Homo sapiens: one gene and its partner. The protein of the gene in region 1 interacts with the protein of each later gene in a biochemical or structural test. Each region holds a gene or a part of one and is shown on either strand. Other genes may lie near its edges. The genes, in order: SYNGAP1 and PDGFRB.

Region 1 (7,280 bases):
CAGTAGCTTCCTGGGGCTGCTATAACAAACTGCTACAAACTGGGTCACGTAAAACAACAGAAATTTATTCTCTCACAGTTCAGGAGGCTGGAAGTCCAAAAGCAAGGTATCAGCAGGGCCACGCTCTCTTTGATGCTGTAGCAGGGAATCCTTCCTTGCCTCTTCCTAGCTTCCGGAGGTTGCCAGCAGTCCTTGGCATTCCTGGGCTTATAACTGCATCCGTCTAATTTCTGCCTCCATCTTCATGTAGCTGGCTTCCTTCTGTGTGTCTCTGTATCCTGTATCTCTGTGTCTCCAAATCTCCCTCTCCATATAAAGACACCAGTTTTTATAAGGTGGGTTAAGGGTCCACTCTAATTCAGTATGGCCTCTTTTTTTTGAGATGGAATATCGCTCTTGTTTCCCAGGCTTGGAGTGCAATGGCATGAGCTCAGCTCACTGCAACCTCCGCCTTCCAGGTTCAAGTGATTCTCCTGCCTCAGCCTCCTGAGTAGCTGGGATTACAGGCACGTGCCACTATGCCCAGCTAATTTGTTTTTGTATTTTTATTAGAGACGGGGTTTCACTATGTTGGCCAGGCTGGCTCGAACTCCTGACCTCAGGCAATCCACCCACCTCGGCCTCCCAAAGTGCTGGGATTACAGGAATGAGATACCATGGCTGGCCTCTTCTTAGTTTGATTACATTTGCAGGGATCCTGTTTCCAAATAAGATCACATTCACAGGTTCAGGGTAGACATGAGTTTTGGTGGGATACTATTCAACCCAGTACACCGTCTCACCTTATGATTGCTGTCTGTATCCCACTTTCTTACTGTCTCTCCTCTTTTGGTGTCTCTCTGTCCCTTCCCCCTTTAACATCATGCCCACCCCACCATGCCAGGACAACAGCCGCCGGGTAGACAATGTGCTAAAGCTGTGGATCATAGAGGCCCGGGAGCTGCCCCCCAAGAAGCGGTACTACTGTGAGCTCTGCCTGGATGACATGCTGTATGCACGCACCACCTCCAAGCCCCGCTCTGCCTCTGGGGACACCGTCTTCTGGGGCGAGCACTTCGAGTTTAACAACCTGCCGGCTGTCCGTGCCCTGCGGCTGCATCTGTACCGTGACTCAGACAAAAAGCGCAAGAAGGACAAGGCAGGCTATGTCGGCCTGGTGACTGTGCCAGTGGCCACCCTGGCTGGGCGCCACTTCACAGAGCAGTGGTACCCTGTAACCCTGCCAACAGGCAGTGGGGGATCTGGGGGCATGGGTTCGGGAGGGGGAGGGGGCTCGGGGGGTGGCTCAGGGGGCAAGGGCAAAGGAGGTTGCCCGGCTGTGCGGCTGAAAGCACGTTACCAGACAATGAGCATCTTGCCCATGGAGCTATATAAAGAGTTTGCAGAGTATGTCACCAACCATTATCGGATGCTGTGTGCAGTCTTGGAGCCCGCCCTGAATGTCAAAGGCAAGGAGGAGGTTGCCAGTGCACTAGTTCACATCCTGCAGAGTACAGGCAAGGCCAAGGTGAGTGTTGTGCCCTCAGGGAAAGGTGACTTGGGAATGGGCACTTGCTTGGGGGTTAGTGAGGACAGGGCAAATTCACGAGATTGGGTTGTGCAGAGGCTGACACTTGGATTTTCCTGGGCCTCAGGACTTCCTTTCAGACATGGCCATGTCTGAGGTAGACCGGTTCATGGAACGGGAGCACCTCATATTCCGCGAGAACACGCTTGCCACTAAAGCCATAGAAGAGTATATGAGACTGATTGGTCAGAAATACCTCAAGGATGCCATTGGTATGGCCCACACTCAGGCCCTCTTCTTCCCAAACCTGCCAGATGTCCACCCCAGACCCCAAGTCCACCCTTCCACAGCTTGATACTTCCTAACCCAGAGTCCTAGGACTCCAGCCTCCAACACCTGATTCTGAAATTTCCCCAACCCTGGCCACCCCCTTCCCTGCCCTTGGAAAGTGTGACCACACCCTCTTGTGCCCCCACCCCCCAGGAGAATTCATCCGTGCTCTGTATGAATCTGAGGAAAACTGCGAGGTAGACCCTATCAAGTGCACAGCATCCAGTTTGGCAGAGCACCAGGCCAACCTGCGAATGTGCTGTGAGTTGGCCCTGTGCAAGGTGGTCAACTCCCACTGGTGAGACTGGGAACGCTGGGCTGGGGGGCCAGGGTCGGGGGAATTATGTGTTCATCTGTTCATCTATCTGTCCATCCTCAAAGAGGACTGAGCACCATTTATGGGCAAAGCATTGTTCTAGGCGCTATAGAGCAAACAGGTGAAAGAGGCCTGGTCCCTGCCCTCAGAGGGCCTCCACCAGAATGGGGACAAATTAGAAGAAAAAAAAAAAAAGCCACAGAGCCATAATGGTGTGTAAGTGCTGAGTAAGGGTCCCCCCAACCTCTGTGTGACATAAGGTCAGAGAGAAGGCAGAGCTTTGAGATAAGTGGGGAAGAGGTGCCCCCTTGGGTAGGCTTTGAAGACTGGTTTAGGTTCTGATATATGGACATAGTTGGCAAGAAAGACATTTCAGAAGAAGGCTGTGAGAAAGGCACATGTGTGATGGTGAAAAGGCCCAGGAGTTTTCAGGGGACATTAAAGTAGGTTAGTAGCAATTACATCAGGTTTAGTGGAGCATGTGCCTCATAATGGGGAGTGGCGGGAGAGATGTCTGGGCAGGAAGATTAGCTTTAGAAACTGGAAGGCCTCAAGGAGTCTGAGGTCATTGGTAGGCCTTGGGATGCCATTAAAGGTGTCAGAAATATTGTGATTTAGAAGATTAATCCATAGGCTGGGCACGGTGGCTCACACCTGTAATACCAGCACTTTGGGAGGCTGAGGCGGGCAGACCACCTGAGGTCAGGAGTTTGAGACCAGGCTGACCAACATGGAGAAACCCTGTCTCTACTAAAAATACAAAATTAGCCAGATGTGGTGGCACATGCCTGTAATCCCAGCTATTCGGGAGGCTAAGGCAGGAGAATCACTTGAATCTGGGAGGTGGAGGTTGTAGTGAGCCGAGATCACACGATTGCACTCTAGCCTGGGCAACAAGAGTGAAACTCCATCTCAAAAAAAAAAAATTAATCCATAAGTAGAGTGTATGTAGTAGAGTAGAGGGATGTATGTTGGGGGATGACTGGAATAGAGCCAGCTGGGGGCTCGGAGGCATGAAAGTCAGATCCTGAATCAGAACAGTGACAGAAGTTAGGAAGGAGCTACTGGAAGGACCCTCTCGGGAAAGGATCAGTAGGAATTGTCAGCTTATTGGAAAGGAGGGAGCATGTCTGTGGGGAGTCACGGATGACTCAAGAGGCCATGAGGCTGGTGGTTGGGAGACCGGTGGCCTCATTGACAACCAGGAAAGTCAGGAGGAGGAGCCAGTTGGAGGTGTGGGGGCGATGGTGAGCTCTGCTTTACACCAGCCGAGTTTAAGGTGTCAGTGGGACATTGAAGTGGAACTGGGAGGTGCGGGGAGTGAGCTCTGAGCCATTCCAGGGACTGGGGATCATGCCTGGGGCACCTCCATCCCCATTTCCCTGGAATCCAGAAGAGTTGGGGGGTCCGAGCTCCCTGTACCTCAAGTGACCCTCCATCTCTCTCCCATCTCTGTCTCTCCCTGGTGTCTGTTTTTCTTCTCCTCCTCTCCTTGTCTCTCTCCCACACCCCTCCATCTCTCTCCCACGTGTCTCTCCCCTCACCTTCTCTCCCCCTCCATTTCTCTCTCCCTAATCTGTCTGTTCCCTCTGCCATGGCCCCCTTCTTCAAGCAGCCTCCCATCTTGCTCCTGCGGTCCCTCCTTCCCTGTCTCTCTCACCCCTGTTTCCACACCCTCACCTCCTACCACCCCCCTCAGCATGTTCCCTGGAAGCTGAGGGTCTCTGGGGCTCAGTCCCGGTCTCTCTCTTTCTCTCTCTCTCTCTCTGTCTCCCCGACCCTTCCCCCCAGCGTGTTCCCGAGGGAGCTGAAGGAGGTGTTTGCTTCGTGGCGGCTGCGCTGCGCAGAGCGAGGCCGGGAGGACATCGCAGACAGGCTTATCAGCGCCTCACTCTTCCTGCGCTTCCTCTGCCCAGCGATTATGTCGCCCAGTCTCTTTGGGCTTATGCAGGAGTACCCAGATGAGCAGACCTCACGAACCCTCACCCTCATTGCCAAGGTCATCCAGAACCTGGCCAACTTTTCCAAGTGAGGGAAGCTTCAGGAGTGGGCAGGGCAGGGAGTGGCAGGGCAGGGAGTGGCAGGGCTGGGGGTCGGCAAGAAGGGTCTCCTGAGTCCCCAGAGATCCTGAGATGGGGAGGCTATGATACCTTGTGTGTGTGTGTATGTGTGTGTATGTGTGTGTGTGTGTGTGTGTGTGTGTATGTGACCTTTATCTTCTGCATTCTTGGCTAGGTTTACCTCAAAGGAGGACTTTCTGGGCTTCATGAATGAGTTTCTGGAGCTGGAATGGGGTTCCATGCAGCAGTTTTTGTATGAGATCTCCAATCTGGACACGCTAACCAACAGCAGTAGCTTTGAGGGTTACATCGACTTGGGCCGAGAGCTCTCCACACTGCATGCCCTACTCTGGGAGGTGCTGCCCCAGCTCAGCAAGGTCAGCAGATCCCCTCTTTGCCCTATCCCCAGATGGCTCCAGAGGTTCCTGGAGCCTGAGAAACTACCCTTTGAAGATTTTTTTTCTCCCCTTGTTTCTCGAGGTGTCACCACTACTATCCCAACTCAGGCCCCCTCCACCTGCACCCTCAGAGGCCCTCTTAGAGCTGGGCACTGAGCCCCCAGGTAACAGCCTCACCCTTCCAGGAAGCCCTCCTGAAGCTGGGTCCACTGCCCCGGCTCCTCAACGACATCAGCACAGCTCTGAGGAACCCCAACATCCAAAGGCAGCCAAGCCGCCAGAGTGAGCGGCCCCGGCCTCAGCCTGTGGTACTGCGGGGGCCATCGGCTGAGATGCAGGGCTACATGATGCGGGACCTCAACAGGTGAGCACCCTGGGACAGCCAGGCCTGTGCCCTAGGAGCCCTTCTCCTATTCTAGATACTCCTCACTGGGCCCCACATGCATCTCTCTAGGGCTTGAAAGAAGGGAGGAAAAAGCACCAAGTTCTCAGGGGAGACGATAAGGAGACAGGTACAGTCAGTGGTAGGCTGAGAGCCCTTTACAGCCTGAGGGAGTGAGAGATTTGGAGCTCTAGGAATAGGGCTGAGGCTCCACCAACTCACGGCTTAGTTGTAAGCCTAGAGCATCCCTGCTGCAAGCTCTGATTTGCTGTCCCTCTGCCTGCCCATGCTAGTCCCCAGGCTGAGGTTCAGCCAGCATGTCATGTCAGCCATGTGTCAAAATGTTCAAACATCTCAGTAATAGCTAGTGAATAAGCACTTCCCCCAGCCCCCGACCACAACCCCACAGACCTCCCCATGATCCAGCACTTAGAGCAGTGACAGCAGAAGCCTAGCAGGGCCTGCAGCCTGCTCCAGAGTCCCAGCCTCCATTCTGATAGGTGGTGCCCGTGCTTCATTTGCTGCTCATTATTTTGATGATGGCCCTGCTTTTTCCTCTGCCCGTGTCTTCCTCCATGACACCATACCCATCCCACCATTCCCGCCTCTCCTTTCATTTGTCCACATCTCTCTCCTTCTCTGTCTGTGCTCGCCCCTCTTTCCATCTCTCTCCAGCTCCATCGACCTTCAGTCCTTCATGGCTCGAGGCCTCAACAGGTGAGGGGCTCTCCCCTCCCCCGCCCTCCTCTCCTCTCCTGTCTGTTCCCTCTCCCACTCCACTGGCCTTCGCCCTACTCCTCTCCTCTCCTCCTCCATGGACCTCATCTCCTCCATATGTGCCCAGCCCTGCCCCCATCCCTTCTCTTGCTGCCCCCATCTCCCCTCCTCTAGGCCTCACCCCCTTCCCGGAGGGGCCCTGTCCTTTCCCTTTACTCACCTGTCCCCTCCCATCCTCCCTGCCTGCCCTCTTCAGGGCTGCCACCGCTAGCTCTCAGCCCTTCCCTCTGGGTCCCACTTTTCACCCCAAGGCCTGTGCCAGACCACAGCAAGGTTCAATTGCTAGGAGCCCTGACCTTACCTTCTGCTTGTGTGCCCCCTTCCCTTCTGACAGCTCTATGGACATGGCTCGCCTCCCCTCCCCAACCAAGGAAAAGCCACCCCCACCACCGCCTGGTGGTGGTAAAGACCTGTTCTATGTAAGCCGTCCACCCCTGGCCCGTTCCTCACCAGCATACTGCACGAGCAGCTCGGACATCACAGAGCCAGAGCAGAAGATGCTGAGTGTCAACAAGAGTGTGTCCATGCTGGACTTACAGGGTGATGGGCCTGGTGGCCGCCTCAACAGCAGCAGTGTTTCGAACCTGGCGGCCGTAGGGGACCTGCTGCACTCAAGCCAGGCCTCGCTGACAGCAGCCTTGGGGCTACGGCCTGCGCCTGCCGGACGCCTCTCCCAGGGGAGTGGCTCATCCATCACGGCGGCTGGCATGCGCCTCAGCCAGATGGGTGTCACCACAGACGGTGTCCCTGCCCAGCAACTGCGAATCCCCCTCTCCTTCCAGAACCCTCTCTTCCACATGGCTGCTGATGGGCCAGGTCCCCCAGGCGGCCATGGAGGGGGCGGTGGCCATGGCCCACCTTCCTCCCATCACCACCACCACCACCATCACCACCACCGAGGTGGAGAGCCCCCTGGGGACACCTTTGCCCCATTCCATGGCTATAGCAAGAGTGAGGACCTCTCTTCCGGGGTCCCCAAGCCCCCTGCTGCCTCCATCCTTCATAGCCACAGCTACAGTGATGAGTTTGGACCCTCTGGCACTGACTTCACCCGTCGGCAGCTTTCACTCCAGGACAACCTGCAGCACATGCTGTCCCCTCCCCAGATCACCATTGGTCCCCAGAGGCCAGCCCCCTCAGGGCCTGGAGGTGGGAGCGGTGGGGGCAGCGGTGGGGGTGGCGGGGGCCAGCCGCCTCCATTGCAGAGGGGCAAGTCTCAGCAGTTGACAGTCAGCGCAGCCCAGAAACCCCGGCCATCCAGCGGGAATCTATTGCAGTCCCCAGAGCCAAGTTATGGCCCCGCCCGTCCACGGCAACAGAGCCTCAGCAAGGAGGGCAGCATTGGGGGCAGCGGGGGCAGCGGTGGCGGAGGGGGTGGGGGGCTGAAGCCCTCCATCACCAAGCAGGTAGGTGAAGGCAGGAGGAAGGCGGGCTGGGTCACAACAGGGAGGGAAGAAGGAGATGGGGGGTGGGGTTGAAACAGAGTCTGTGGCCTGAAGTTACAATCTTC
Region 2 (4,787 bases), on another chromosome or scaffold:
CTCACCATGCCTTGTAAGATTCTATGTGAGGTAGGAGGGCAGCTCAACCATGTGGCTTGGGCAAATCCCTTTCCCCTCTGAGCAGCGGGGGTCTTATTTATACAAAGGGGGATGGGCTCGGTTAGAAGATCCCTGAAGGCATTTCTGGCCTGACCATCCCTGTTTCTTTGGTTCTCCCTGCCCCGGGAGCAGAAGTACCAGCAGGTGGATGAGGAGTTTCTGAGGAGTGACCACCCAGCCATCCTTCGGTCCCAGGCCCGCTTGCCTGGGTTCCATGGCCTCCGATCTCCCCTGGACACCAGCTCCGTCCTCTATACTGCCGTGCAGCCCAATGAGGGTGACAACGACTATATCATCCCCCTGCCTGACCCCAAACCCGAGGTTGCTGACGAGGGCCCACTGGAGGGTTCCCCCAGCCTAGCCAGGTAACCACCCTGGCCTGGGGCCAAGGAAATTGTGCACAGTGTGTGTGTGTGTGTGTGTGTGTGTGTGTGTGTGCGCGCGCGCGCGCGCGCTGCCAGGTTTGCCTCAGAGGTAAGTTACGTAGGGTAAGTACTTATCCCTACCAATGAATAGAAGACAGAATGGAACTCATTTGAACTTTGATGCCCTGAGGTGGAAAGGGCAGGCTAGTAAAAACAAAAGTATGGGCTGGGACTTACTTGCAAGGTAGCTATTTCCTTTAAGGGAGCCCCCAGAGGTTATCTATACTCTCTTATCTCTAGGTCCTGTCCTAGCCCCAAAAAGAAGAAGCAAACCTACTTAGCATCCCCAGCACCCCAGCTGTTACTCATGGCCAGCCTGAGGCCTATGTTCTGTTCTTCAGCACCACGCCCTGGGGCCAGAGGGAGCCTGCTTGGTTGTAGGAGTCAGAGGTGCCTAAAGGAATTCAGGACAGAATTCAGACTGGGAAGGAGATTCGTGGTTTTCTTTTGCCTTGGGAAGTGGTGAAGTTACAGCCCAGAGGGGGCTTTATAGGAGGACCCTGCTGTTGTGTGGACTTGATGTCCACGCAGGATCTCCCCTTAACTGGAGAGAAGGGCTCCCCATGAGGCCACGCCCACCTCCAAAGCGAGATCCAGCCCAAGGTGAAGTGGCTGGAGCCCCAGGCTGGGGTACTGTCCCAACTCTGCCACTAGCCGCTGAGACCTGGGAAGGCTTCTCCTCTGCGAGCCTCAGTTTCTCCATATGTGCCAGGAGTGCACACCGGCCTTAGAAGGCTCCGAAGGCCCTCATTGCTCTAACTGTTGAAGAGGCCAACCATCCAAGAGTCCCAGTGGATGGTGCAGAGGAGTGAAGTGCAGCGCTCACACAGCTTGAGGTGTGAATGCTCACCCTGTTTTGTGCCCTCAGACAAGCTGCTTCACTGTCTAAACATTGGTGTCCTCTTCTTTTTTTTTTTATTATTTTTATTCATTTATTTATTTATTTTTGAGATGGAGTTTCGCTCTTGTTGCCCAGGCTGGAGTGCAATGGCGCGATCTCGGCTCACTGCAACCTCCACCTCCCAGGTTCAAGCAATTCTCCTGCCTCAGCCTCCCGAGTAGCTGGAATTACAGGCATGCAGCACCACGCCTGGCTAATTTTGTATTTTTAGTAGAGTTGGGGTTTCTCCATGTTGAGACTGGTCTCAACCTCCTGACCTCAGGTGATCCGCCTGCCTCGGCCTCCCAAAGTGCTGGGATTACAGATGTGAGCCACCACGCCCGGCCAGTGTCTTCTTCTGTAAAATACAAACAGTAAAAGTACTTCTATTAGGCGGTCATTGCAAGGATTAAATGAGATAGCATACACCTTTAGGAGTGCAGAGGAGGGAGATGCTGGTGGGTGAGAAACGAGCTTTGGAGCCAGCTGACCCTGCTCCGAAGTTCCAGCTCCTGCACTTCCCTGCTGTGTGAAGTGGGGCAGTGATATAACCTCTCTGAGCCACACTTTCCTCACGGTGCAGGCCTTGCATAGTTTTCACAAGAGTTAAATGAGCCGGAGTGTGTGAAGCCTACGGTGCAGGGGTGGACACACCGAAGGCTCTTCATGACTGCTGCTGGAATCCTCCTGGGCTCCTTCCTAGCCCCTCACTCACTGCCTCTTTCCTCTAGCTCCACCCTGAATGAAGTCAACACCTCCTCAACCATCTCCTGTGACAGCCCCCTGGAGCCCCAGGACGAACCAGAGCCAGAGCCCCAGCTTGAGCTCCAGGTGGAGCCGGAGCCAGAGCTGGAACAGTTGCCGGATTCGGGGTGCCCTGCGCCTCGGGCGGAAGCAGAGGATAGCTTCCTGTAGGGGGCTGGCCCCTACCCTGCCCTGCCTGAAGCTCCCCCCCTGCCAGCACCCAGCATCTCCTGGCCTGGCCTGACCGGGCTTCCTGTCAGCCAGGCTGCCCTTATCAGCTGTCCCCTTCTGGAAGCTTTCTGCTCCTGACGTGTTGTGCCCCAAACCCTGGGGCTGGCTTAGGAGGCAAGAAAACTGCAGGGGCCGTGACCAGCCCTCTGCCTCCAGGGAGGCCAACTGACTCTGAGCCAGGGTTCCCCCAGGGAACTCAGTTTTCCCATATGTAAAATGGGAAAGTTAGGCTTGATGACCCAGAATCTAGGATTCTCTCCCTGGCTGACAGGTGGGGAGACCGAATCCCTCCCTGGGAAGATTCTTGGAGTTACTGAGGTGGTAAATTAACTTTTTTCTGTTCAGCCAGCTACCCCTCAAGGAATCATAGCTCTCTCCTCGCACTTTTATCCACCCAGGAGCTAGGGAAGAGACCCTAGCCTCCCTGGCTGCTGGCTGAGCTAGGGCCTAGCCTTGAGCAGTGTTGCCTCATCCAGAAGAAAGCCAGTCTCCTCCCTATGATGCCAGTCCCTGCGTTCCCTGGCCCGAGCTGGTCTGGGGCCATTAGGCAGCCTAATTAATGCTGGAGGCTGAGCCAAGTACAGGACACCCCCAGCCTGCAGCCCTTGCCCAGGGCACTTGGAGCACACGCAGCCATAGCAAGTGCCTGTGTCCCTGTCCTTCAGGCCCATCAGTCCTGGGGCTTTTTCTTTATCACCCTCAGTCTTAATCCATCCACCAGAGTCTAGAAGGCCAGACGGGCCCCGCATCTGTGATGAGAATGTAAATGTGCCAGTGTGGAGTGGCCACGTGTGTGTGCCAGTATATGGCCCTGGCTCTGCATTGGACCTGCTATGAGGCTTTGGAGGAATCCCTCACCCTCTCTGGGCCTCAGTTTCCCCTTCAAAAAATGAATAAGTCGGACTTATTAACTCTGAGTGCCTTGCCAGCACTAACATTCTAGAGTATTCCAGGTGGTTGCACATTTGTCCAGATGAAGCAAGGCCATATACCCTAAACTTCCATCCTGGGGGTCAGCTGGGCTCCTGGGAGATTCCAGATCACACATCACACTCTGGGGACTCAGGAACCATGCCCCTTCCCCAGGCCCCCAGCAAGTCTCAAGAACACAGCTGCACAGGCCTTGACTTAGAGTGACAGCCGGTGTCCTGGAAAGCCCCCAGCAGCTGCCCCAGGGACATGGGAAGACCACGGGACCTCTTTCACTACCCACGATGACCTCCGGGGGTATCCTGGGCAAAAGGGACAAAGAGGGCAAATGAGATCACCTCCTGCAGCCCACCACTCCAGCACCTGTGCCGAGGTCTGCGTCGAAGACAGAATGGACAGTGAGGACAGTTATGTCTTGTAAAAGACAAGAAGCTTCAGATGGGTACCCCAAGAAGGATGTGAGAGGTGGGCGCTTTGGAGGTTTGCCCCTCACCCACCAGCTGCCCCATCCCTGAGGCAGCGCTCCATGGGGGTATGGTTTTGTCACTGCCCAGACCTAGCAGTGACATCTCATTGTCCCCAGCCCAGTGGGCATTGGAGGTGCCAGGGGAGTCAGGGTTGTAGCCAAGACGCCCCCGCACGGGGAGGGTTGGGAAGGGGGTGCAGGAAGCTCAACCCCTCTGGGCACCAACCCTGCATTGCAGGTTGGCACCTTACTTCCCTGGGATCCCCAGAGTTGGTCCAAGGAGGGAGAGTGGGTTCTCAATACGGTACCAAAGATATAATCACCTAGGTTTACAAATATTTTTAGGACTCACGTTAACTCACATTTATACAGCAGAAATGCTATTTTGTATGCTGTTGAGTTTTTCTATCTGTGTACTTTTTTTTAAGGGAAAGATTTTAATATTAAACCTGGTGCTTCTCACTCACAGACTTTGTGGTCTCTCTCGGGTTTGGGTTCCTGCCCATAGGGAGTGTGGAGTGGGGCACATGAGGCTCACCCAGACGCAGACCCCCAGACAGGTCCCTTCAGCTCTGAGTCTCATTTCATTCATCTGTAAAGTGGGGATTTTCGCTCTCCCACCCCTCGCTGGAAGCTGGGGGGCCTAGACCTTGGGCTTGGTTTCCCAAGGTGGGAAGCGAGCAGGCTTTTCTGGCTCCACAGAGCCTGGCCTTGAGTCGGGCAGGAGGGTGTGGGGCTGCAGGGCTGCTCCAAGGCTCTGGTGCTGAGGCGTCTCACTGCCTCCACCATGTGCTTTGGCTTTGGCTATCAGCTGGGACACCCTCCCCTCCACTCCGCCCACAGGCCCGGATTGAGGCCGGCGTGCTCTGTGACAGGCAGCTGCTAGAGCCCAGATTCCAGGTCCAGGTGAGTCATGATCAGGCCCCAGGTAGGAGAAGGGCAGACAGAGTGTCCAAAAGCGTGAGAGCACGAAGTGAGGAGAAGGTGGAGAAGAGAGAAGAGGAAGAGGAAGAGGAAGAGAGGAAGCGGAGGGAACTGCGGCCAGGGTAAG

Evidence for each region.
Region 2: the proteins of SYNGAP1 (region 1) and PDGFRB form a complex in vitro, tested with the Homo sapiens proteins (one study listed by BioGRID).

What each region holds. Positions count from the first base shown.
Region 1 is NC_000006.12:33,436,785-33,444,064, forward strand, and holds part of SYNGAP1 (ras/Rap GTPase-activating protein SynGAP), read left to right. Parts: intron 1-578; exon of another isoform or gene 579-697; intron 698-883; coding exon 884-1,507; intron 1,508-1,546; exon of another isoform or gene 1,547-1,634; coding exon 1,635-1,779; intron 1,780-1,990; coding exon 1,991-2,135; intron 2,136-3,944; coding exon 3,945-4,181; intron 4,182-4,388; coding exon 4,389-4,590; intron 4,591-4,796; coding exon 4,797-4,975; intron 4,976-5,668; coding exon 5,669-5,710; intron 5,711-6,104; coding exon 6,105-7,176; intron 7,177-7,280. UniProt on the Homo sapiens protein: Major constituent of the PSD essential for postsynaptic signaling. Inhibitory regulator of the Ras-cAMP pathway.
Region 2 is NC_000005.10:150,113,256-150,118,042, reverse strand, and holds the end of PDGFRB (platelet-derived growth factor receptor beta isoform 1 precursor), read left to right. Parts: intron 1-192; coding exon 193-425; intron 426-2,096; coding exon 2,097-2,280; 3' UTR 2,281-4,204; downstream 4,205-4,787. UniProt on the Homo sapiens protein: Tyrosine-protein kinase that acts as a cell-surface receptor for homodimeric PDGFB and PDGFD and for heterodimers formed by PDGFA and PDGFB, and plays an essential role in the regulation of embryonic development, cell proliferation, survival, differentiation, chemotaxis and migration.